7 separate regions of the Homo sapiens genome follow, and all the other regions are reported to be linked to region 3. The links are microRNA targets in miRTarBase. Many come from high-throughput screens and were not tested one by one. Region 3 holds a microRNA gene; each other region holds the end of a gene's coding sequence.
The links. Region 3 holds the annotated microRNA hsa-miR-196b-5p (UAGGUAGUUUCCUGUUGUUGGG, at 1,935-1,956, shown strand). A microRNA usually pairs through its seed, bases 2 to 8, with sites in the 3' UTR of a target mRNA and lowers its output. Matches are read on the target gene's strand: a 7mer-m8 pairs with bases 2 to 8, a 7mer-A1 pairs with bases 2 to 7 and ends in A, and an 8mer does both.

Region 1: miRTarBase lists SPTSSA as a target of hsa-miR-196b-5p. Seed matches in the 3' UTR shown: 8mer at 1,448-1,455.
Region 2: the mRNA of SP100 is a reported target of hsa-miR-196b-5p. The part of its 3' UTR that is shown has no 7-base or 8-base seed match.
Region 4: the mRNA of KLHDC8B is a reported target of hsa-miR-196b-5p. Seed matches in the 3' UTR shown: 7mer-A1 at 961-967.
Region 5: miRTarBase lists SLC23A2 as a target of hsa-miR-196b-5p. The part of its 3' UTR that is shown has no 7-base or 8-base seed match.
Region 6: miRTarBase lists DFFA as a target of hsa-miR-196b-5p. Seed matches in the 3' UTR shown: 8mer at 669-676.
Region 7: miRTarBase lists AJUBA as a target of hsa-miR-196b-5p. The part of its 3' UTR that is shown has no 7-base or 8-base seed match.

Annotation. Positions count from the first base shown.
Region 1 is chr14:34,432,759-34,435,758 of GRCh38, forward strand. It overlaps SPTSSA (serine palmitoyltransferase small subunit A), which reads right to left. Exons shown (of 2, transcript NM_138288.4): 2 at 30-2,546. The coding sequence ends at 2,443. Among named protein-coding and RNA genes, the nearest start is that of SPTSSA, 28 kb to the right of the region's middle.
Region 2 is chr2:230,542,643-230,545,742 of GRCh38, reverse strand. SP100 (SP100 nuclear antigen) reads right to left here. Exons shown (of 29, transcript NM_001080391.2): 29 at 137-2,907. The coding sequence ends at 2,797. Among named protein-coding and RNA genes, the nearest start is that of SP100, 130 kb to the right of the region's middle.
Region 3 is chr7:27,168,370-27,171,483 of GRCh38, reverse strand. MIR196B (microRNA 196b) reads left to right here and starts at 1,921; the gene lies at 1,921-2,004. All of the region lies in intron 1 of HOXA10-HOXA9 (HOXA10-HOXA9 readthrough), which reads left to right. HOXA10 (homeobox A10) reads left to right here. Exons shown (of 2, transcript NM_018951.4): 2 at 1-879. HOXA10-AS (HOXA10 antisense RNA) reads right to left here and starts at 2,585. Exons shown (of 3, transcript NR_046609.1): 1 at 2,491-2,585; 2 at 1,720-2,177; 3 at 1-176. RefSeq lists enhancers at 1,719-2,309, 2,310-2,900.
Region 4 is chr3:49,175,454-49,178,453 of GRCh38, forward strand. It overlaps KLHDC8B (kelch domain containing 8B), which reads left to right. Exons shown (of 6, transcript NM_173546.3): 6 at 152-1,033. The coding sequence ends at 348. CIMIP7 (ciliary microtubule inner protein 7) reads right to left here. Exons shown (of 4, transcript NM_001080528.3): 4 at 2,181-2,599. The coding sequence ends at 2,183. Among named protein-coding and RNA genes, the nearest start is that of KLHDC8B, 5.4 kb to the left of the region's middle.
Region 5 is chr20:4,854,399-4,857,512 of GRCh38, reverse strand. SLC23A2 (solute carrier family 23 member 2) reads left to right here. Exons shown (of 17, transcript NM_005116.6): 17 at 309-3,114. The coding sequence ends at 541. Among named protein-coding and RNA genes, the nearest start is that of RASSF2, 32 kb to the right of the region's middle.
Region 6 is chr1:10,458,971-10,462,084 of GRCh38, reverse strand. It overlaps DFFA (DNA fragmentation factor subunit alpha), which reads left to right. Exons shown (of 6, transcript NM_004401.3): 6 at 383-3,114. The coding sequence ends at 595. Among named protein-coding and RNA genes, the nearest start is that of CORT, 10 kb to the right of the region's middle.
Region 7 is chr14:22,970,994-22,974,107 of GRCh38, forward strand. It overlaps AJUBA (ajuba LIM protein), which reads right to left. Exons shown (of 8, transcript NM_032876.6): 7 at 3,054-3,114; 8 at 184-2,575. The coding sequence ends at 2,450. Among named protein-coding and RNA genes, the nearest start is that of AJUBA, 10 kb to the right of the region's middle.

The DNA.
Region 1 (3,000 bases), not on the chromosome of region 3:
ACTTGTTGAAGGCTCAAATAATCATTAGCTTTTTTCAGCAATAAATAATTCTTTAATTAAGATAGGTATATTGGGTGTTTTTTTTTTTTAGCCATAATGCTACTGCACACTTAATAGACTACAGGATGGTGTAAATGTAACTTTTATATGCAGGGGAAAACCAAAAAACTTCATGTGACTCACTTTATTGAGATATTCACTTTATTGCAGTGGTCTGAAACTGAACCCACAATAACTACAAGGTATGCTTGTAAATACCTTATTTTTAACAAAAAGTGAAAATGATTTCCCTGTTATTTACTAACAAATAGACCAGACATTTGCATCAGACAGTGAGCATAAACTTCTCTGATCACCTCTCAAGAGACATCTCCCATTTCTCTTTTGACTCTCCTCAAGATTTCCTGTAAGACCAAACTTTATCTTCCATATGTCTCACAGGTCAGTGTTCATAATAACCATCAGTTATACAACAGCAATTTAATGAATCTCAGAGTGAAGACAAATTGCCGGTTTCTGAGTAGAGGGCCAGGATAGGTCACCTGGATACTCATTGAAACTAATGATTCTCAACTTCTCCTGCCTTCAACTCACCAGAGGAATATTAGACATCCACTTGTTAGTGGTTCTCTATGGGGGATAGTAGAGGAAAGCCAAATTTGGGCATTAATAGAACAAATCTTATGTTAAATCCTCGTATTATTTTTCTTGAGATAATATGACTACAGCTCAGATATAACCATATCCAATTTTTAACTACTTCAAACCAAGTAATTCCATATTATTCTCACTACTCCTATCTAATTGTGGTATCAATTGGCTCTAAAAATATTAAACACATATATATTACTTGAGACCTCTAGACTATAAAATACTTCAAAAGTCTAGTCCTTAAAACGTAGGGCAAAAAATACCTCAATTTTGGCCGGGCGCGGTGGCTCACGCCTGTAAACCCAGCACTTTGGGAGGCCGAGGCAGGTGGATCAGGAGGTCAGGAGTTTGAGACCATCCTGGCCAACACAGTGAAACCCCGTCTCTACTACAGATACAAAAAATTAGCCAGGCATGGTGGCAGGTGCCTGTAATCCCAGCTATTCAGGAGGCTGAGGCAGGAGAATCACTTGATCCCAGGAGATGGAGGTTGCAGTGAACCGAGATCATGCTGTTGCACTCCATCCTGGGCGACAGGGCAAGACTCCGTCTCAAAAAAAAAAAAACAAAAAAACAACCCAGCAACACACATAATTGCCTAATTCTTTTCAATTAGCAATATTTTTATGTTGCAAAACATATAGGATAAGACATACTTACTGCTTATCTGGTCCTCCACAGAAAATAATTCAGCAATATAAATACTAGATCAATATTTAACCATCAAGGAAAAGATATACTGCTACATCAGCTGATTTTTTTTCTCTTTGAATTTAATGTATTTACATCAAAAAATTAGGTAGTCATTTTACATTTAAGGAATAAAAACCTTAAAAAAAACAATACAAAGAGTGAAAGGATTTTAACCAAGTTTACATTTCTTTTTGCTATAATTTTTAACAACAATTCGTCTCATCATAACTTAATGCAATGTGCAAATGCAGCACCCATTACAATCATTAAACTAAATTTAAGGAAGTACATTGTTAATAGTGACCCTCGGAGGAAATGGATTTCTCTTCTATTAAAAACTCTATGGTATATAAGCATTACATAATAATGCTACTTAACCACCTTTTGTCTCAAGAATTATCACCAAAGTTTTCTGGAAATAAGTCCACATAAGAATTAAATATTTAAAAGGTGAAATGTTCCTTATTTTAACTTTAGCAAGATCTTTTCTTTTTCATTAAGAAACACTTTAATAATTTTAAAGCAAAAGCTGTTAGAGTCTAGATAGCTAAAACTGTACTCCTGAGTTCAAGCTTACAGATAAATCTTTTGTTAAGTAGTTCTCAATAAAATATCTTCCCTCCCCATACCCCTACCCGAAATCTTATATTGTTCTTTACAAAACTTTGGTCAAGAGTAGAAATATATCCAGGCAGATGTATATGCCATACAATAGCAAGAACAGTAAAGCCCAACTAATGATTTTGAGTTTTAAAAATAGAAGGCAATTAAAATGTACTCAAAGTTACATTAAGAAAAGCTTTCACGGGGGTAATATTGAAACAGTCACAAAGGTTAAGAAAATACTGATATCAAAGTACAAATGACTACAATGTTAAAATAGACAAAAACTGCTATACAAGAGCCTCTTTGAAAATTAAAAATAAAGAACACAACACATGAGTCAGGATGATTTTCCTGTTCTACTCATGAATTTTAGTCTTTATAAGGTTGGTTATGTTGACATCTAGAAGAGTTTCTTATCACATCTGATGGTCTCATTCCAACTTCGTAGGGTGGGTCTTCCCCAAGGAACCTCTGATCCTGGTCGCATCTTGGTCATTGTACGATTTCAAAGTAGTGCAATATCGCCATGATGTGCTGGGGCATGAAGACGTATCCTGTGTATAGTGCCATCCCCACAATGGAAACCAGCATGGAATCTGAGTTGTAGTTAAGGAAACTTATTATTATTAATTTATTCAAAACTAAATCTCCACATGTCTTCAACAACTCTTTTATGCTGAAGTACCCATTCACTTAGTGCTTTCTCATTTATATCAAGCACTGATAAAAAAAACAACAAGAATGATAATACTAGCCACTAACAACCATGCCTGGCACCACTCTAAGCTGGTTTTGTTTTATTTTGTTTTTAGCTCATTCTATCTTTACTATCACCATATAAAGTAAGTACTGTTATTCTCCCTGTGTAGTTGAAAATATCAGACTGCTTCAAATGTTTTTGTTTGTTTGTTTCTCTTTTTTTTTTTTTTTTTTTTTTGAGACAGAGTTTTGCTCTTGTTACCCAAGGCTGGAGTGTAATGGCACGATCTCGGCTCACTGCAACCTCTGCCTTCTGGGTTCAAGTGATTCTCCTGTCTTAGCCTCCTGAGT
Region 2 (3,100 bases), not on the chromosome of region 3:
TTGCTTTCACGGCAACAACAAAAAATACAAAACTGAATAATTGGGAAGATATAATATGATCCTTTATAGAAAGACTTTATGTTATCAGTTGTAAGTTTCGTTCCAAATTATTCAATAAGAGAACTTGATAAGACAATTTTATTATTAAAATTTTTTTTAATGATCCATTTATTTACAATTAAAAAAACTTTTAGGTTCAGGGGTATATGTGAAGGTTTGTTATATAGGGAAACTCTTGTCACGGGTTTGTTGTACAGAGTACTTCATCACCAATAGGTACTTTTTCTGCTCCTCTCCCTCTTCCCATCCTCCACCCTCAAGTAGACCCTAGTGTCTGTTCCCTTCATTGTGTTCATGAGTTCTCATCATTTAGCTCCCACTCACAACTGAGAACCTGTGGTATTTGGTTTTCTGTTCCTGAATTAGTTTGCTAAGGATAATAGCCTCCAGCTCTATCCATGTTCCTGAGACATGATCTCATTGTTTCTTATGGCTGCATACTATTCCATGGTGTATGTGTACCATATTTTCTTTATCCAATCTGTTACTGATGGGCACTTAGGTTGATTCTGTATCTTTGCTATTGTGAATAGTGCTGCAGTGGACATTTGCATGCATGTGTCTTTATGGTAGAATGATTTATATTCCTCTGGGTATGTACCCAGTAATGGGATTGCTGGGTGGAATGGCAGTTCTGCTTTTAGCACTATGAGGAGTTGCCACACTGCTTTCCACAGTGGTTGAACTAATTTACACTCCCATCAATAGTGTATAAATGTTCCCTTTTCTCCACAACCTTACTAGCTGTTATTTTTTGACTTTTTAGAAAGAGGCATTTTGACTGGTGTGAGATGGTGTCTCATTGTAGTTTTAATTTGCATGTCTCTAACGATCAGTGATATTGAGCTTTTAAAACATGCTTGTTGGCCGCATGTGTATCTTCTTTTGGAAAGTGTCTTTTCATCCGGGCATGGTGGCTGATGCCTGTAATCCCAGCACTTTGGGAGGCCGAGGTGGGTGGATCACCTGAGGTCGGGAGTTCAAGACCAGCCTGACCAATGTGGAGAAACCCCGTCTCTACTAAAATACAAAATCAGTCAGGTGGTGCATGCCTGTAATCCCAGCCACCTGGGAGGCTGAGGCAGGAGAATTGCTTGAACCCGGGAGGCAGAGGTTGTGGTGAGCCAAGATCACGCCATTGCACTCTGGCCTGGGCAACAAGAGTGAAACTCCATCTTAAAAAAAAAAAGTGTCTTTCATGTCCTTTGCCCACTTTTTAATGGGGTTATTTCTTTTTGTCTTGTAAATTTGTTTAAGTTCCCTATAGAAGCTGGCTATTAGACCTTTGTCAGATGCATAGTGTGCAAATATTTTCTCCCATTTTGTAGGTTGTCTGTTTACTCTGTTGATTGTTTCTTTTGCTGTGCAGAATCTCTTAAGTTTAATTAGATCCCATTTGTCAAATTTTGCTTTTGTTGCTATTGCTTTTGTCTTTATCATGAAATCTTTGCCTGTTCCTATGTCCAGGATGGTATTGCCTAGGTTGTCTTCCAGAGTCTTCATAGTTTTTGATTTTACATTAAGTCTTTAATTGATCTTGAGTTGATTTTTGTATATGGTGTAAGGAAGAGGTCTAGCTTCAATCTTCTATCCCAGTTATCCCAGCACCATTTATAAAATAGGGAGTCTTTTTCCCATTGCTTGTTTTTATCGACGATCAGATGGTCATAGGAGTGTGGTCTTATTCTGTGCTCTTCGTTCTGTTCCATTGGTCTATGTGGCTTTTTTTTTGGTACCAGTACCATGCTGTTTTGGTTACTGAAGCCCTGTAATATAGTTTGAAGTGGGGTAACGTGATGCCTTCAGCTTTGTTCTTTTTGCTTAGGATTGCCTTGGCTATTTGGGCTCTTTTTTGGTTCTGTATGAATTTTAAAATAGTTTTATCTAGTTCTGTGAAGAATGTCATTGGTGGTTTGATAGGAATAACATTGAACCTGTAAACTGCTTTGGGCAGTATGGTCATTTTAATGATATTGACTGTTTCTACACAGGAGCATGGGATGTTTTTCCATTTGTTTGTGTCATCTCCAATCTCTTTGAGCAGTGTTTCGTAATTCTCATTGTAGAACTCTCTCACCTCCCTGATTAGCTGTATTCCTAGGTATTTTATTCTTTTAGTGGCAATTGTGAATGAGATTGCCTTCCTGATTTGGCTCTTGGCTTGGCTATTGCTGGTGTATAGGAATACTAGTAATTTTCATATACTAATTTTGTATTCTGAAACATCTCTGAAATTGTTTATCAGCAGAAGGAGCTTCTGGGCTGAGACTAGGGGGTTTTCTAGATATAGAATCAATGTTGTGTGCAAACAGGGATAGTTTGACTTCCTCTTTGCCTATTTAGATACCCTTTATTTTTTTCTGCTTCCTGACTGCTCTGACCAGGACTTCCAATACTTTGTTGAATAGGAGTGGTGAGAGAGGGAATCCTTGTCTTGTGCTTGTTTTCAAGGGGAATGCTTCTTTTGCGCATTCCATATAATGTTGTCTGTGGGTTTGTCATAAATGGCTCTTATTATTTTGGGATATGTTCCTCAATACCTAGCTTATTGAGAATTTTTAACATGAAGGGGTGTTGAATTTTATTGAAAGCTGAAAAGACGGTTTTAAAATGGCAATGATAAATTTTGGAGAATTGTGATGTGGAGTTTCCACAGGAGCAGTCACAGATTAGTGGGACCACAGGCACATTGCGTAGCTAGCTGCCAGAGGATCTGAAGGGAGGAGATAAGAATGGCTAAATAAACATTATAATGTTCTTGCTTGTTTCCTGAATTGCAAAAATGTTTCTGAAATTCTTCTCAAAGATGTCCTGTACTTGAATTCCCAGTCTGGTGAATTTATCTTCCTAAAAAAGCAAAGAAAAAAACAATATAGCAGTTATGCAATGAGCTGAGACACCCAGTGTTGCAGATAATCTGGGGCCTCATTTTAGGTTATCCCAAATGTTAAGTGAGAATTAATCTACTTGAGTTGCTTATGTTCCTTGATAATTTAATTATTTATCTTTATCTGGAAGACAAGTCAAAATACTACTACAC
Region 3 (3,114 bases):
CTGAGGTCAATGGTGCAAAGGAGCCGCCACCGGGCATGTCTGCCTGGAGTGCTGTGCTGTGTTTAATCAGGGGATACAGGCCCCTGGGTTTCTTTTTTCTTTCTTCCTTTCTTCCTTGGCCAAGAGAAGGGCTTACAGGCATGGACATGCAGGTTGGCAAACGGGCTTGACTTTGGCTGATTTAAAAAGTGAGAAAGAAAGTAAAAAAGGTTAATTTTTCCTTCCTCTGTAAGATATCCCAGCTTTAAAAAGAAAAAAAAAGAATTACCAAGAGAAGGGGACTTCTCTTCCAGTTTCTGTAAGGTCTTACATTGCCTGACTAAAATGTTTCATTTACCTCTAAATTTCCATATCCTTCTGGCTGTAGATAAATAATGTAGTTTTGTTTATGCATTTGGAATTAGTGGATTTTTTTGTCATTAAAATTGTTACCACTGGTAACATGTGACAAGCACACCACAATTCTCCCTATCTTGTGAAGTTGTTTTTTTAAATCGCCTTGAACAAAAAGTTTTTTTTTTGTTTGTTTTTGCTTTCTGAAATTCACAGAAGCCTAGGAGGACTGGGGTAAGCGGAATAAACTAGAGAAGGGAGACATTGTTTGGATTTCCTTTATACTGTGAAGTTACATGCATAAAAGGGTCAAACCTGTAGATGCAGAAAAAGAAAAAAACTATAAATACAAATCTGTATAAATGTCTATTATTATGAAGAATTGCCAATCTTGTTTTAAGCAAATGCATTCTATCGTTATTATAAATGTTAGTTCTAGCTCTATTTACTTCTAATCTTAAATCAGAATAAATTAATATTGTATTGCTGCTGTGCGTGGAAAAAGACGATGTTTATGTTCTTATAGAATAAAAGCTGTGGAATGAAGCTTTTTAATTTTACCTCTTTTTTGACTTCTTATCTTCACCTTCCACTTTATCCCGTTCACCACTTTTACAACAGGAGGACTAACCCGAGCCCCTGCAATTACTTTAGGCATCTATTTAAATATTACCTAGACGGTCGTAATTTGTCTGGGCCCTATAGCCCTGGTGCCGTAAGGTTTGTCGGCTTTTGTTCAGTTTTATGGCTTGCTAGTATATCTGGATTGTGGCTGTCTTGGACCAGTGATTTCAGTTGAGAGGGGAGCTACATAGACAGAGGAAGCCAAACAGGATTTCTTTCGGGAGCCCCAGGGAGGCTTGCAGAGGCCGGTTATTTTGCGGGTGTCTGGGTCACAGATGACCCTCAATCTGAATCGGGGAGCAGGCCTGGCCCACAGCGCATCTCTAGCCGCTGGAGGCAGCGGTTAGGTGGACCCGGGCTGGACTGCATGGGGGCCTCCCCCTCCCCCAGTACGGCCTCCCCCACCTGGCGGCACTCCTTAGGGCCACGCGTTTCCTGCTTGCCAGAGTGGGGGGGGCGGGGGCTAAGGGGAGGGGGCGCAGGAGCGCGCGCCCCGGCGGGCGGGCAGCTAGGAGGGAGAGGGGGAGAGCGAGAGGCGGGAGGCCGGGGCCAGACAGGGAGCCGGGATCTGTACCGTCCCTGGCGCTTTCGAGCCTTCCACGGCTACCGCCTCTTGGCGCCGGCTCGCTGGGCTGCAAGATTTGGGAAAGCGGCGCGCACACTGCTTCTCGGAGCTGCTCTCGTCTCGCCTGCTCCCCGCCTTTATTCCTCTCTCCCTGCCTTTCCTCCCTCTCTTTTCCTCCCTCTCCCTCCCAGGAATACCTTACTGGGGCCTGTGGCTTCCCCTTCCTTGACGCATTTGCGGCCGCCTGGGGCACTCTGTTGCACTGGCGGGCGCAGGTTGCCTAGGGGCTGGGCTGGGCCGGGCCAGGCGCGATGGCAGGGTTCTCTCCTTGGCGGCGGCGGCAGCGGCGGAGGCGGCGGCGGCGGCGGGCGAGGCAGCCCTTCGCGGGCAGCACCAGAACTGGTCGGTGATTTAGGTAGTTTCCTGTTGTTGGGATCCACCTTTCTCTCGACAGCACGACACTGCCTTCATTACTTCAGTTGAAATCGTCTCCAGGTACCTCTGCGCGCGGGGGTCGGGCCGGGCGGGGCATCACGGCCCTGGTCGTGCCAGGCCTGCGGTGGCAACCTCGGCTTTCCCTGCTCAGGAGCCTCGTGTCTTTCTCCGCAGCGCTTTGCCAGCCGGCCGGCTTTCCCCTTCCACCACACACCTCCACCTGGTCACAGCAGGTAGGGTTAGGTTGGCTGCTCCTTCGCGGACGCCGGGGGCGTGGTAGGAATTCTGGGCTTTGGGCCATTCAAGGTCAGGGGCGCCCGCTTCCATCCTGAGCCTCCCACTGGAGGCCTGCGCCTGCCCAGGGACCTCCTGCCATTCTCTTGTAAGGCTGGAACACACACACACACACACACACACACACACACACACACACCAGTCCCGGGTGTGAGCTCAGGAAAGAACCTCCTTCCAGTGGAGACTCAGGCTGGACTAGGAAGGATAGGGCAGGCTGGGATCCTGGCCTTGTCACTTACCCTTCTCTCTGTAAGCTCGGCCGCTGCTAGGAGTCGCCTCTCTTTTCTTCCTTCTTTTCCCTGTCTTCCCTTCCTCTTTTATCTCTTCTTTCTTTTTTTCTTCTTTCCTTTGCTCCTTCCTGCTTTCTTTTCTTCCGTTGGTCTTTTTTTCATCTTCCGTCTCTGCCAGATTCTATCTCACCTCCTTATCTCCTTCCCAAAGCATCCTTGGGGAGGGGCCCAGAGCTGGCTTCAGGAGAGCCTAGGGGGTCTCACTTTCCTCTGCGGCTCAAGTAGAGGTTGGGAAGTCTGCCGAGGAAGGGCCCGCGTGGGGCGGCTGCCGAGGGCGGTGGGTTTGGGCCTGGTGTGTTACTCTGCAGACAAGGCCTCGGTTATGATCACGACCGGATGGCGGCAGCCTTGCGTTTCTTCGCCTGTCGCTAACGGCTGACTAGGAGATCTGATTAGGGGACATTCGCTGCAGCTTTGTGTGCCCATATCGAGGGCAGGGAGGCCTTCGCCAGCCTCACTGGGGACTGGAGCTGAGGCCCAACCAGCCTCGCTGGAGCCTGGCCATTCGCTGGGAAGCTCTTAGCTGGCTCTTCCCGGCCTGCCGGTCACAGCTTGGGGTTTGACCGCATTGAG
Region 4 (3,000 bases), not on the chromosome of region 3:
AACAAATGATGAACATAGGCAATGAGGAGCAAGGCCCTGATAGCTCATCCTGGGGTGATAACTACTGGGCTATTCTCTGGGCTTAGGGAGCAGAAGGGCCTGGAGTCCCTACGGCCTGTGCCTCTCACAGCCTTCTCTCTCCTTCTTGCAGGAAACCAGCCATGTCCTTTGGGCTCTGTGGAGAGCTTTAGCCTTGCACGGCGGCGCTGGGAGGCATTGCCTGCCATGCCCACTGCCCGCTGCTCCTGCTCTAGTCTGCAGGCTGGGCCCCGGCTGTTTGTTATTGGGGGTGTGGCCCAGGGCCCCAGTCAAGCCGTGGAGGCACTGTGTCTGCGTGATGGGGTCTGAAGGCTTGGTGGGAGCTGTCCACTGGAGCAGCTCATTGCCAGAGGCAGCTATTTCTATGGCTCCTTTTGCTGCTGAGGACACTCACTGTGGCTCTGTGGGATGAGAGAGGCATGGGGGTGAGCACTTGAAACACTGCCTTGGGGCCTTGGGTTAGGGGAGCCTTTGTCTTTAGTGCAGGACACACATATGCTTACACCTACCTTTATCACCATTCGTTCATGAATCATGCCTAGCTCCATCCTTGCCCTGGGACCTACTAGGCCTTCCATCCAACTGGGAAATGGGGAGAAGCAAAGCTGGCCTCATGCTCTTCAGGGTCAGTTCCTATCTGGAGTTGACCAGGCCTACCCCAGTTGCCATTCCTGAAAAATCTCAGCTGCCAGGCTGCCTTTAGGGTCCCTGCAGACCCAGGAGAGTTGAGAGGGTGGGGGACACAGAGAGAATAGAGAGGATGTGGGAACTGCCAGAGGGCCGGAGCGCAGGAGTTCAAGTGGAGGAATGCTGGCTTTGAGCCCTCTACACTGCTGGTTGTATGACCTTGGACAAGTCACTTCACCTCTCTGTGCCTCAGCATCCTCATCTATAAATGGGGATCTCTGAAACCTTCCTACCCTACCTACCTCACAGGGCTGTTGTGAGGACCCAGGGAGTTTGGATGTGGAAGTAAAAGTGCTGCTAAAACCTAGTGTGTGGACCCTGGTGTGAACTCCCTTGTTTCCACTGCCCCTGCCTTCCTTTGGGGGTCTCAATGCCCCTAGGGATGAGGGTCCAGAAGGAGCCTCTTGGATCTGGTCGGTGTTCCCAAAGTGATTTGGTGTTTCTGTTCCATCTGAGCCTCAGCTTATTCTTTGGCAACATGTGATGACAGCGCCTCCTTACTGTCCTGGGGATTAGAGAGCACTAGGGCAGTAAGGAAGGGCTGTCACATGTCACCAAAGGATGGCAGGATAAGATGACCAGAGAAGTGCTCAGAAAACAACAGAATACCACAAGGTTAGGAAGACCTCCAGATCCAAGTTACAGAGTGTCTCCTTAGGGTCTCTGCTCACCCCCACAGGGAGGGGTGGTGCAGTGGGTTCTGTGGCCCAGGGCAGTCTCTTTCTGTCTCAGCTGTGGGGCAGCCGTCTCTTGGACAGGACTGTGTGGCCACCCAACAAACCCCTCAAAGGCAGCTGCCTCCTGAGAAAGCTGCCAACTCTTCCTTCTTCCAGCCTTTGTCGCCCACTAGTACTGGTCTCTGGGGTCTGCTTTCCCCATAGCTAAACTGAGTACTTGACCTGCTTCCCCAGTGATGCCTTTCATTCTAGGGTGAAGCACCTAGAAAGTCAGTGGCCCACAGGATATTTGCACATTGTCTGGCACGCTGGCAGAGGAAACCAACACAGAGATGTCTCTGGGGGAATGGGCTGTTTCCCAGAGGAGAAAGGTTGTGGGGAAGTTAGTCACTCCGCTGCCTTCATAAGGAGCCCTCCCTCAGTGTCACCCCCTTCACCCTGCCACCTGCTCTGTCCTGACTTCAACTTAGGCTGGGGACTGCCCTCTAATCTTCCTCTCTACAGCTGGGTTTACTGCAAGAACAGAGTAGTACTTGGGGCCCTGGAACCCACCTGATGTGGCTATAGCAATCCTCCTGGACTCTTAGCCTCCTGCAGGCCTTACCCTTTCTCACTTAGTGGCAGGGATCCCAGAGCAGCACCTCCCATGCCCAGCACAGAAACACACCATGGGCACAAGTGCCATGGGAGACAGGCACAGGACCTGGCAGCCTACTACTACCTTTCAGCCTCTTGGGCTACATCCCATTGTGGGCTGCAAGCACAGACAGGCTGCTGTGTCAGCTGTCCTTGTTTAATGCTCTGGACCAGTTTAGACACTCAGAGACCCCAGCATGAAGGTAGTGCTGCAGCAGCTTGGGTCTTGGGATCCCTGGGAGGTCAGGCAGTACGTCAGTGACCGGCGCCTGGGGCCCTACCTTGTAGCTGCCATAGTGGCCACCCTGGGATGGGCAGCAGAAGTTCTGCTGGTAGGTGGTCCTGGTATGGGAAGGCTGGACCTGCACAAAGTGGATGAGGTGCTGGGGGAGGCCACTGAGTCCTGGGCCTGGCCTGAAATCAGCCTGGTAAGAAGATTCCAGGGGCCCCTGCTGGCGCAACTCTATCTCACAGGGTGCCCAGCGCAGGAAGGTGTGCCGCTGCCACAGGCGCTCCAGGTCCTTCCGCCTTCCGATTCCCTGCAGCAGGCAATAGGGACCCTCCTCAACGGTATGGGCCCTTGGCCCACATTCCTGGCACCAAGCACCTTCTTGGGCCCCTCCTAACCCCAAGTCTGCTTGGTGATACCTGTCCTATGCCTGGCTGTCTTGGCCTGTACCCTGGCCTCCTTGGCCTGCCTCCCCAGTGATGTCTTTCATTCTAAGGTGAAGCACCCAGAAAGTTAGTGGCCCACAGGATACTTGCATATTGTCTGGCAAGTTGGCAGAGGAAACCAACATAGAGATGTCTCTGTTTGGGGGAATAGGCTGTTTCCCAGAGGAGAAAGTTTGTGGGGGAAGACAGCCACTCCTCTGCCTTCATAAGGAGCCCTCCCTCAGTGTCATCCCCTCCACCCTACCATCTGCTCTGTCCAGACTTCAGCTTAGGCTGGGGGACTGCC
Region 5 (3,114 bases), not on the chromosome of region 3:
AATATGGGTCACATAGAAGGATAGGGAGGTCAGAAGGTCATTAGGTGATTGCTTGAATGAGGACATGGAGGGGTTAGTGCTTCTTAGACTTCTGGTTTGGGCACTGGATAGCTGAGCACCTTCACCTCCTCAAGTATTCTTTGCTGTTATCTAGGCAGGTTTGATCTGTGGGACCATGTGTGTGTGTGTGTGTGTGTGTGTGTGTGTGTGTGTGTGTGTGTGTGTGTGTATGTGTTTGACGACAGTTTCATTTTCAGTAGAGCTGCTAAACGAAGCATTCCTTTGTTCTATCTTGGGATGTGTGACAGGCACTCCAGAGGAAAGAGGAATCCGGAAATGGAAGAAGGGTGTGGGCAAAGGGAACAAATCACTCGACGGCATGGAGTCGTACAATTTGCCATTTGGCATGAACATTATAAAAAAATACAGATGCTTCAGCTACTTACCCATCAGCCCAACCTTTGTGGGCTACACATGGAAAGGCCTCAGGAAGAGCGACAACAGCCGGAGTTCAGATGAAGACTCCCAGGCCACGGGATAGCCTTTGCTGTGCCCTGTGGCCTGGCCGCAGTGAGGCATGTATCTGTAGTTCCTTGCTGAGTAACAAGAAGTAAAATACATGTTTGTATATCTACATTTACATTCTGCGCCCCAGAGCTAAGACAGACTGCGAATCACTTTTCTGCTGTGAGGGTGATGGTGCCTGATGCGGTGTCTCGCCTATCTCCTTATTTAAGCCCTTAACTCCTTGCCCTTTGAGAGTGTCCATTGCTGGCCATGGTCACTAAATTTGAAGTTCCAGTCCTCCCTTTGGAGTGGACATTTAAAATCTGCAGCCATTCCTTGCTTCAGTTCCCTTCCACCACCCAGGGCTGGCTTTCCTATAAGCCACCTCCAGGGTCCAGGGGCTTTCTCTCTCTCTCCGAAGCCCCTGGACCTGTTTCCTTGTCATTTGACCCTCGTCTGTGCCCGCGGAGACCTCCTCTGACCAAGGGGCACTAGTATGCCTTGCGCTATCATGACTGACTGGCCCAGTATGATTCTGTTGTCGCTGATCTCCCGGAGGAGGAGGCTGTTGACCTGAAAACAGTGGCGTGGCTCCCCTGTGCCCAGATCTGGCCATGGGTGAGGCCTGCACAGATGTTGAATGAACATCTGTTTGGGGCATTGGAGGGAAAAGGAAAGGACCCTGAAGCCAATATCTGATTCTCGGCTGCACCTTCTCTTGGCCACCCTGGCCCTGACCGGGCCAGCACGTGCACACTGGCCTCTTTTCATTTCACTAGTGGCCGAGACACCCTCTCTGGCATTTATCACTGTTGGCCGGTGTGATGAGTATAGAGTGCCACCCAAGGCACCAGTCACACAAGCTGATGGGCGTCTTGGCTCTGCCGTCATGTGGATGTTATTGTCGCGCGCGTCTATAATTACAAGGTTTTATTCCTATTTAATGTTATTGACTATAGCAGATTTTGGAAATCAGTGTTTTCCATGTGACCCTCTTTCCTTGCATCCCTATTCCTTGTCCCCCACCCACTCTTCCCCCCATCAAGAAAAGAACCAGCATTTGTAAAGCTGTGGACACCATCAGGGAAGCTTGTTGTAACGGCTTTTGAAGGCCAGTAACCATTGTTGTGGTTGTGTTTTGTATTGCTTGATACCATGAAAGTGTAAATACTGTAATGCCTAATCTATTTATCAAAACTGACTACTGGACCGGAGCCCAGAAACCATGGGTCAAGTTACACGTGAATTTGTTTTGTGAAGAAGGGAAGCTGGGGCAGGTAACACGCAGAGCCGCCACGTGGAACGGTCTGTCCGCCGGTCTGTCCCGCTTGCCGGGCTTCTGTTGCAAGTCTTGGCTTAAGGAGACTTCCTGTGGGTTGCCATGTCGCACGTCCGTTAGATCTTGATTTTACAGGTGAGGGTGGTTGCCAAAGGTGATAAGAAAAGCAGCCAACAGGCTCCCTCTCACTTAAGAGAGTTCTAATTAATAACACTAAATTCTTCCTGAGAAATGACTCCTCTTGGTTTGGTTTGAAGTTTTTCAGTGAAGGAAAAGGCCTGAGATAGGAAGCAGTGCCCTCGCTTCATGAGGTGGCACATCTTCGGTGGCCGTTGGCCTGGTCGAGCTTTGGTCAGCTGCGTGGGTGCCTGTCTCCTGTCTCCAGCGGCAGGGCATGGTTCTTGGCAGCCTGGTGTCCACACGGTGCATTCCTGTCCCCCTCGGCCCCAGGCTGGCTCAGCTCTCCAGTGCTGCGGCGCTGTCTTTGCAGCATTGCCATGTCACCGTAGCCCCCTTCACTCTTGGAAGTTTGGGGCTTCAAGGTTTATTCTGGCAAGAACACCTCGGAGCCACTGCATTGTTTTGCCAAAAACTTACTGCAGATTAAGTAAAGAACTTAGATGCTAAATTACATCTAATTTTGTATGTTTTTTTAAATGTGTCTTTGATGCATACTTTAGAAGCACACTGGCTCGCGGTTTCCATCCCTCTTGCCTTGGGACACTCTTGAGGCTGGCAGCCCTCCTGCAATGAGTTGCTCTCAGTTCCTTCTGTTTGGATTTTGCTCAACATCTCCAGTTTCTCTGCTCTGAAAAATGGGGAAAACTGCTAAACATCCCAGAGATTTGCAATCTTCTAGCTCTCCAGGTGAGCAGAAAGACCAAATATCCAAATAAAAGCCTGAAAGCCATTGGTGATCCAGGGGCACCTTCTCTTCAGCTTGACTGGGCGTCTTCCGCTGCATAACACTCAAGGTGTCTGCTCTAGTCATCCAGAAACCCACTCCCTTCTGAAGCCCCTCCTTGGGCCGGGTTGTATCAGGAGGATTCAACCCCGCTAACATGTGGGGTGCCCTCTGTAGGCCTTCACACAGGGAAGGAAGCCCTACCCTTTCAACTCCTGTTGGAGTGAGAGTTTCCTGTTCTGATTCCACTGTGGCCAACCCAATAATTCTGTCCGAGGAGGGGTAAGGGAATAGGAGGTGGGGAGCAAAGAGGGCAGCCTGACTAGATGCCCCTGCTGAATCTGGTACTTTCTGCACAGCCTTGAGTGATTGGAGTCCCCTAATGACTAATAAACTTGAACATGTAACACACACACACACACAC
Region 6 (3,114 bases), not on the chromosome of region 3:
AGATCGAGACCATCCTGGCGAACACGGTGAAACCCCGTCTCTACTAAAAAAAATACAAAAAAATTAGCCAGGCGTGGTCGTGGGCACCTGTAGTCCCAGCTACTCAGGGGGCTGAGGCAGGAGAATGGCGTGAATCCGGGAGGCGGAGCTTGCAGGGAGCCGAGATAGTGTCACTGCACTCCAGCCTGGGTGACAGAGCGAGACTCCGTCTCAAAAAACAAAAAGCCCGTGGCAATTAATGGTAAAGGAAACCCGGCATTTCAGTGTAAAGAGGTAACATAAACGGATACTGCCTCATTGCACTCCCCAAAAGAGAGTCAGGAGAGCAGCAGGAGAGGCGCACAGAAGGCCCAGTTCTCAGGGGTTTTTATTCTTGCTGCAGTTGGTTACCAAGGAAGACCCCAAAGCACTGGCTGTTGCCTTGAACTGGGACATAAAGAAGACGGAGACTGTTCAGGAGGCCTGTGAGCGGGAGCTCGCCCTGCGCCTGCAGCAGACGCAGAGCTTGCATTCTCTCCGGAGCATCTCAGCAAGCAAGGCCTCACCACCTGGTGACCTGCAGAATCCTAAGCGAGCCAGACAGGATCCCACATAGCAGCAGCGGGAAGTGTGCCAAGGAAGCTCTGTGGCGTTGTGTTATTGGTAGACACCCTCAGCCTCATCATTTGACTACCTATGTACTACTCTACCCCCTGCCTTAGAGCACCTTCCAGAGAAGCTATTCCAGGTCTCAACATACGCCGTTCCACCAATTTTTTTTTTAGCCCCACCAGCTTCAGGACTTCTGCCAATTTTGAATGATATAGCTGCACCAACAATATCCCGCCTCCTCTAATTACATATGATGTTCTCTGTTCAAAAGTAATTGGCAGTGATTGGCCAGGCGCAGTGGCTCACGCCTGTAATCCCAGCACTGGGAGGCCGAGGGGGGCGGATCGTGAAGTCAGGAGATCGAGACCATCCTGGCTAACATGGTGAAACCCTGTCTCTACTAAAAATACAAAAAAAATTAGCCAGCCATGGTGGCGGGCGCCTGTAATCCCAGCTACTTGGGAGGCTGAGGCAGGAGAATGGCATGAACCTGGGAGGCAGAGCTTGCAGTGAGCTGAGATTGCGCCACTGCACTCCAGCCTGGGCAACAGAGCGAGACTCCGTCTCAAAAAAAAAAAAAAAAAAAGTAATTGGCAGTGACTATGGGCGCACTGCCTAACATTTAGCCCTGCCCCATATGGAACATGTTAAAAAAAAAAAAAGCCAGGCCGAGCGTGTTGGCTCACGCTTGTAATCCCAGCACTTTGGGAGGCCGAGGCGGGTGGATCACGAGGTCAGGAGATCGAGACCATCCTGGCTAACACAGTGAAACGTGTTTTTACTAAAAGTACAAAAAACTAGCTGGGCGTGGTGGCAGGAGCCTGTAGTCCCAGCTACTCGGGAGGCTGAGGCAGGAGAATTGCTTGAACCGGGGAGGCAGAAGTTGCAGTGAGCCGAGATTATGCCACTGTACTCCAGCCTGGGTGACAGAGTGACACTCTGTCTCAAAAAAAAAAAAAAAAAGGACAGGCACGACAGTGGCTCACACCTTTGATCCCAGCACTTTGGAGGCCGATGCAGGCGGATCACATGAGGTCAGGAGTTCAAGACCAACCTGGCCAATATGGTGAAACCCCGTCTCTACTAAAAATACAAAAATTAGCTGGGCATGATGGCGGGTGCCTGTAATCCCAGCTACTCGGTAGGCAGAGGTTGCAGTGAGCTGAGAGCGCACCACTGCACTCCAGCCTGGGTGACAGAGCTAGACTCCGTATCTCAAGAAAAAAAAAAAGTTTTGTTTTGTTTTTTTGAGACAGAGTCTCACTCTGTCACCTAGTCTGGAGTGCAGTGGCACATTCTCGGCTCACTGCAACCCCCACCTCCCAGGTTCAAGCGATTCTCCTGTTTCAGCCTCCTGAGCAGCTGGGATTACAGGCACGTGCCACCATGCCCGGCTAATTTTTGTATTTTTAGTAGAGACAGGGTTTTGTCACATTGGCCAGGCTGGTCTCAAACTCCTGACCTCAGGTGATCCACCCACCTCAGCCTCCCAAAGTGCTGGGATTACAGGTGTGAGCCACCACCCCTGGCCAGAAAAAAAAGCTTTTAAATAAAGTAATTGTCAGCTTAGGCAACATAGCAAGACCCTGTCTCTACAAAAAAAAAATTTAAGTTAGCCAGGCATGGTGGCACTGACCTATAATCCTAGCTACTCTGGAGGCTAAGGCGAGAGTATCACTTGAGCCCAGGAGCTCAAGGCTGATCATGCCACCATACTCCAGCCTGGATGATAGAGTAAGACCCTACTTTTTTTTTTTTTTTTTTAAAAAGGTAACCATCAAGGGCAATGAAAAGAAATGGTCGTATTTCCAATTCATTATCCTTATTCTGAAGATAGTACGGCAGAATTTTAAGCAGAGATAGTGGTGAAGATGGTGACATTATAGAGTGTTGACTATGGCCACAATCTTGTTTCTCCAGTTAATGAATTTTTTTATGTGTTTGTTTAAAGATACATATTAAGCTTGTAGACCATAGGGACATACGGAGAGTCCATTGCTAATATCTCACTCAGTATTGTGAAATTCTATCTCACCACCGTGAAACTCTTCAGTTTTCTAATTGCTTTATCAGCAGGGGGTATAAAAGGTCATGAAAGCAATTTCCACATGCTGTGGCTCCAGGTCTCTGGGTGTGAAGCAGAGCAAGCCTGGTTTGTCCTCCTCCTGTCTCCACACAGACGGCTTCTGCAGGTTTGGTAATCTACAGTACACTCCTTGCAGGGAAAAGGTGATGAGTCATCATGGACTTATTTGACCACTTTTTATGCATGCTTAGAGGAAAACAGAATACTGTTAAGAGATTCATCTGCTAGTTATTAAGTAAAGAAATATCACAATAGGCCGGGCGCAGTGGCTCACACCTGTAATCCCAGCATTTTGGGAGGCCAAGGTGGGCGGATCACCTGAGGTCAGGAGTTCGAGACCAGCCTAGCCAACATGGTGAAACCCCGTCTCTACTGAAATTATAAAAAATTAGCCGGGTGTAGTGGTACACGCCTGTAGTCCCAGTTACTTGGGAGGC
Region 7 (3,114 bases), not on the chromosome of region 3:
TAGTCCCAGCTACTTGGGAGGCTGAGGCAGGAGAATGGTGTGAATCCGGGAGGCGGAGCTTGCAGTGAGCCGAGATAGCGCCACTGCACTCCAGCCTGGGCGACAGAGTGAGACTCTGTCTCAAAAAAAAAAAAAAAAAAAAAAATATCCCTGAGGGGATGGATGTAAAGTTACACAAGCTTGTCTGGATTTCCCATCATAGGGCCTTTGTATTCACTTATTTAATAATAGTTCAGAAGAAGCTATCTCAGCTGTACAAGAAGTAATTCAGTTTCAGAACATTTCTCACTCCAACAAGGTGCATTTTCCCCTCTGGCGCTCAGTTGTATAAATCTGACCTCTTTCCCTCTCACTCAGAGATCTCTTTTATGTATTTCCCAGGTTGGCTGGCATAGTCACCTTAGAATAGCCCCCAAATGTGGAAATTCTGTTGTCAGGAGTCATCATTTCCAGTAAGAAACTCACTGAGTGACAGAAAATGAAGACTAAAGATCAAAGATTACTAAATTAATTTGCCTAAAACCAATTCACCTAAAACCAATTAGTCTAAAATAAATATTTATCAAATCTGCAGCATTTCAAAAGGATTTAGCAGATTCACCCTTTTAGTTATTACTGTTGTCTGTATAACTTTTCATTGTAAGTCAACTGAATATGCCTCATGCCTATTCATTTGTTTAAGATATACTGGCCTTTTTAACAGTAGGAATGTAGAAGTTAGACCAAAGCATCAAAATCACATTGAACTCCATTATATTTTTCAAGGCATTTAATTTGTAAAGGAATATTGGATTAAGAAACAAAAAAATGATACACAAAATGTCTGTACCAATTGTATTTATTGCTAGAAACTTTAAACTTTTTAAAAAAGTTTTTGAATGGTAGATAACATAGAAAAAGACATCCATAAAGGTAGGAAGCAATCTCATCATTTACAAAGTGCTGCAAATTTGATAAATTTATGTTGCTGATAATAGCTCAGAAGTACTCTTGGATGAATAGATATAAATCCTTGAAATATCCAAAGCATGACAAAAAAGAATAGGACACCTAAATGGATATAAACACACCAAAATAGGAATTGAGCTTTTGGCAAATTAGTCATTAAGTCATTAACTTTAAGCAAACAAGTTTTCAGTAAATTGGTTTTAAGAGATCTAGCTTTAGGTGAACTAGTTTCAAGCAAACTGACTAGTATCAAATCAGTGTTTTGCTCCCTCCAGTTCCCCCCAACTCTAGTTTTGGGATTGTGATGGATGCAATCCGGGACCCCTCTGAGAGGTGGCAAGTGAGCTTCTACTAGGAAACCAAGTGTACAAGTGACCTGAGAAGAGAGTAAGAAAGAGTGAGAGAGAGACAGAGAGACAAGAGAGAGAGTGTGTGTGTGCATGAACACACCCACACATGCATACACTGGGCTATATGGCTCAGTGCACCTAAACTTGGGAATGTGGCTAAGCTGAAGCTTCCTAGACATCCCCCCAACAAGCTCCACACCCACAGAGATCTGCTCATTACCTCCCCCAGCCAAGGAGAAGAGCAACCACGTACAATCACCTACCTAGCCTCCCCAGACCCATGTAAGTTCCTGAGAAACAGGGAATACAGGCAGCAACCCCACTCAGAGCTGGTCCCCATTCTCAGACAGATAAGGAGCTCTCCTAGTCCTTAGAAGAAGGCCAAGAAATAACTCATTAATGAGGTCCAGAGTTTCTACCTCTTCATCCAGATATAGGTGCGGGACCCCATATCTGACACCATGTGTCACAAAAAGTGAGGAGCTTAAATTTGGTTGCCTAGCAGGAACTCACCACCCTAGACTTGCTACCTCTCAGGGACATCCCACACTGCATCAACCACAACCCCAAAACTCTGGGGTTTGGGGGAGCTGGAGGGAGAATTACACTTTGATTTGGTTCTAGTCAGTTTAGCTGAAACTAATTGATTTAAAGCTAGGTCCTCTACTCCTGGAATCCAGGACCAGAACATTGCGTGACTCATGCATAATCATACACTAGGCCAGACACAGTGGCTTACGCCTATAATCCCAGCACTTTGGGAGGCCAAGGTGGGAGGATCATTCGAGCCCAGGAGTTCAAGACTAGCCTGGGCAACATGGTGAGATCCCATCTCTAAAACAAACAAAATATATATACTGAAGATACAGAATCAGATGTTCAGAAAGTCCTGGAACCCTCCTGTGTGTGCCTAAGCTCAGACTGCACACATGGGAAAAAGGCCAGTCGCCCCCACCCTGGTAAATATAAGGTTTCTCTTCCACAATCCATTTGGAATATCATGATCTTTGGGTCTCCGGCCCTTGGGGTCCTCCCCAGAGGACTCTTCTGCCAGGCCTGCAGAGTGCATTCTTTGCCTTGGCTGGCCTCAGAGGGGCCCACTGGCCACAGCAGTTTGTCTGCAGGGTGACAGCAGCAGCAGTGATTGCAGCTCAGATATAGTTGGCAGGGGGTTGTCGGGCATTGAGCCGCTGCATGTGGCAACCATGGCAGAGCAAGTGCCCATCCAGAGGGAAACAGCAGCAGCCTTCCTCATCACTCAGCTGCATCCGGCAGTCCTAGGGAAGAAGGCACCTAGTTCACCTCAGCCTAGGCACCTTGGACACTGAGGGTATCTTAGGAGTCTGCCCTGCTCAACACCTGACTCCTAATAACTGGAAGAAAGGGATGGGGTGGGAAGGGAAGGATGGAAGGGATGGAAGAGCAATCTGAGAAAATACTAATACCTCAGCTGGACACCAGGTGTCACTGCTGCAGCAGAAATAATGACACAAGCCTGTCTTTCAAGAAGTTTGACCAGAGTCCCTAGTCTTAGAAAGTCCTGACTCTGGGAGAGTCAGATTCAGAAAGGACTAAGCTACTTGGACCAGAGAGAGTGGCTGGAGGACAAAAAAGAGACTGAAGATAGGTCACAATATCTTTCTGGTTTCCCATGCCCTACACCTCTCCCATAGATGTCTGGTTGTTGCAGGACTTGACTCCTCCCCTCTCCCCATTTCCACTTCTTCTCCAGCACCGCTGAACCCCAACACTCACCTCACAGTGGTAGCACTCAAAGTGATAATCCCGGTCCATGGATATCACCCTCACGATGTCC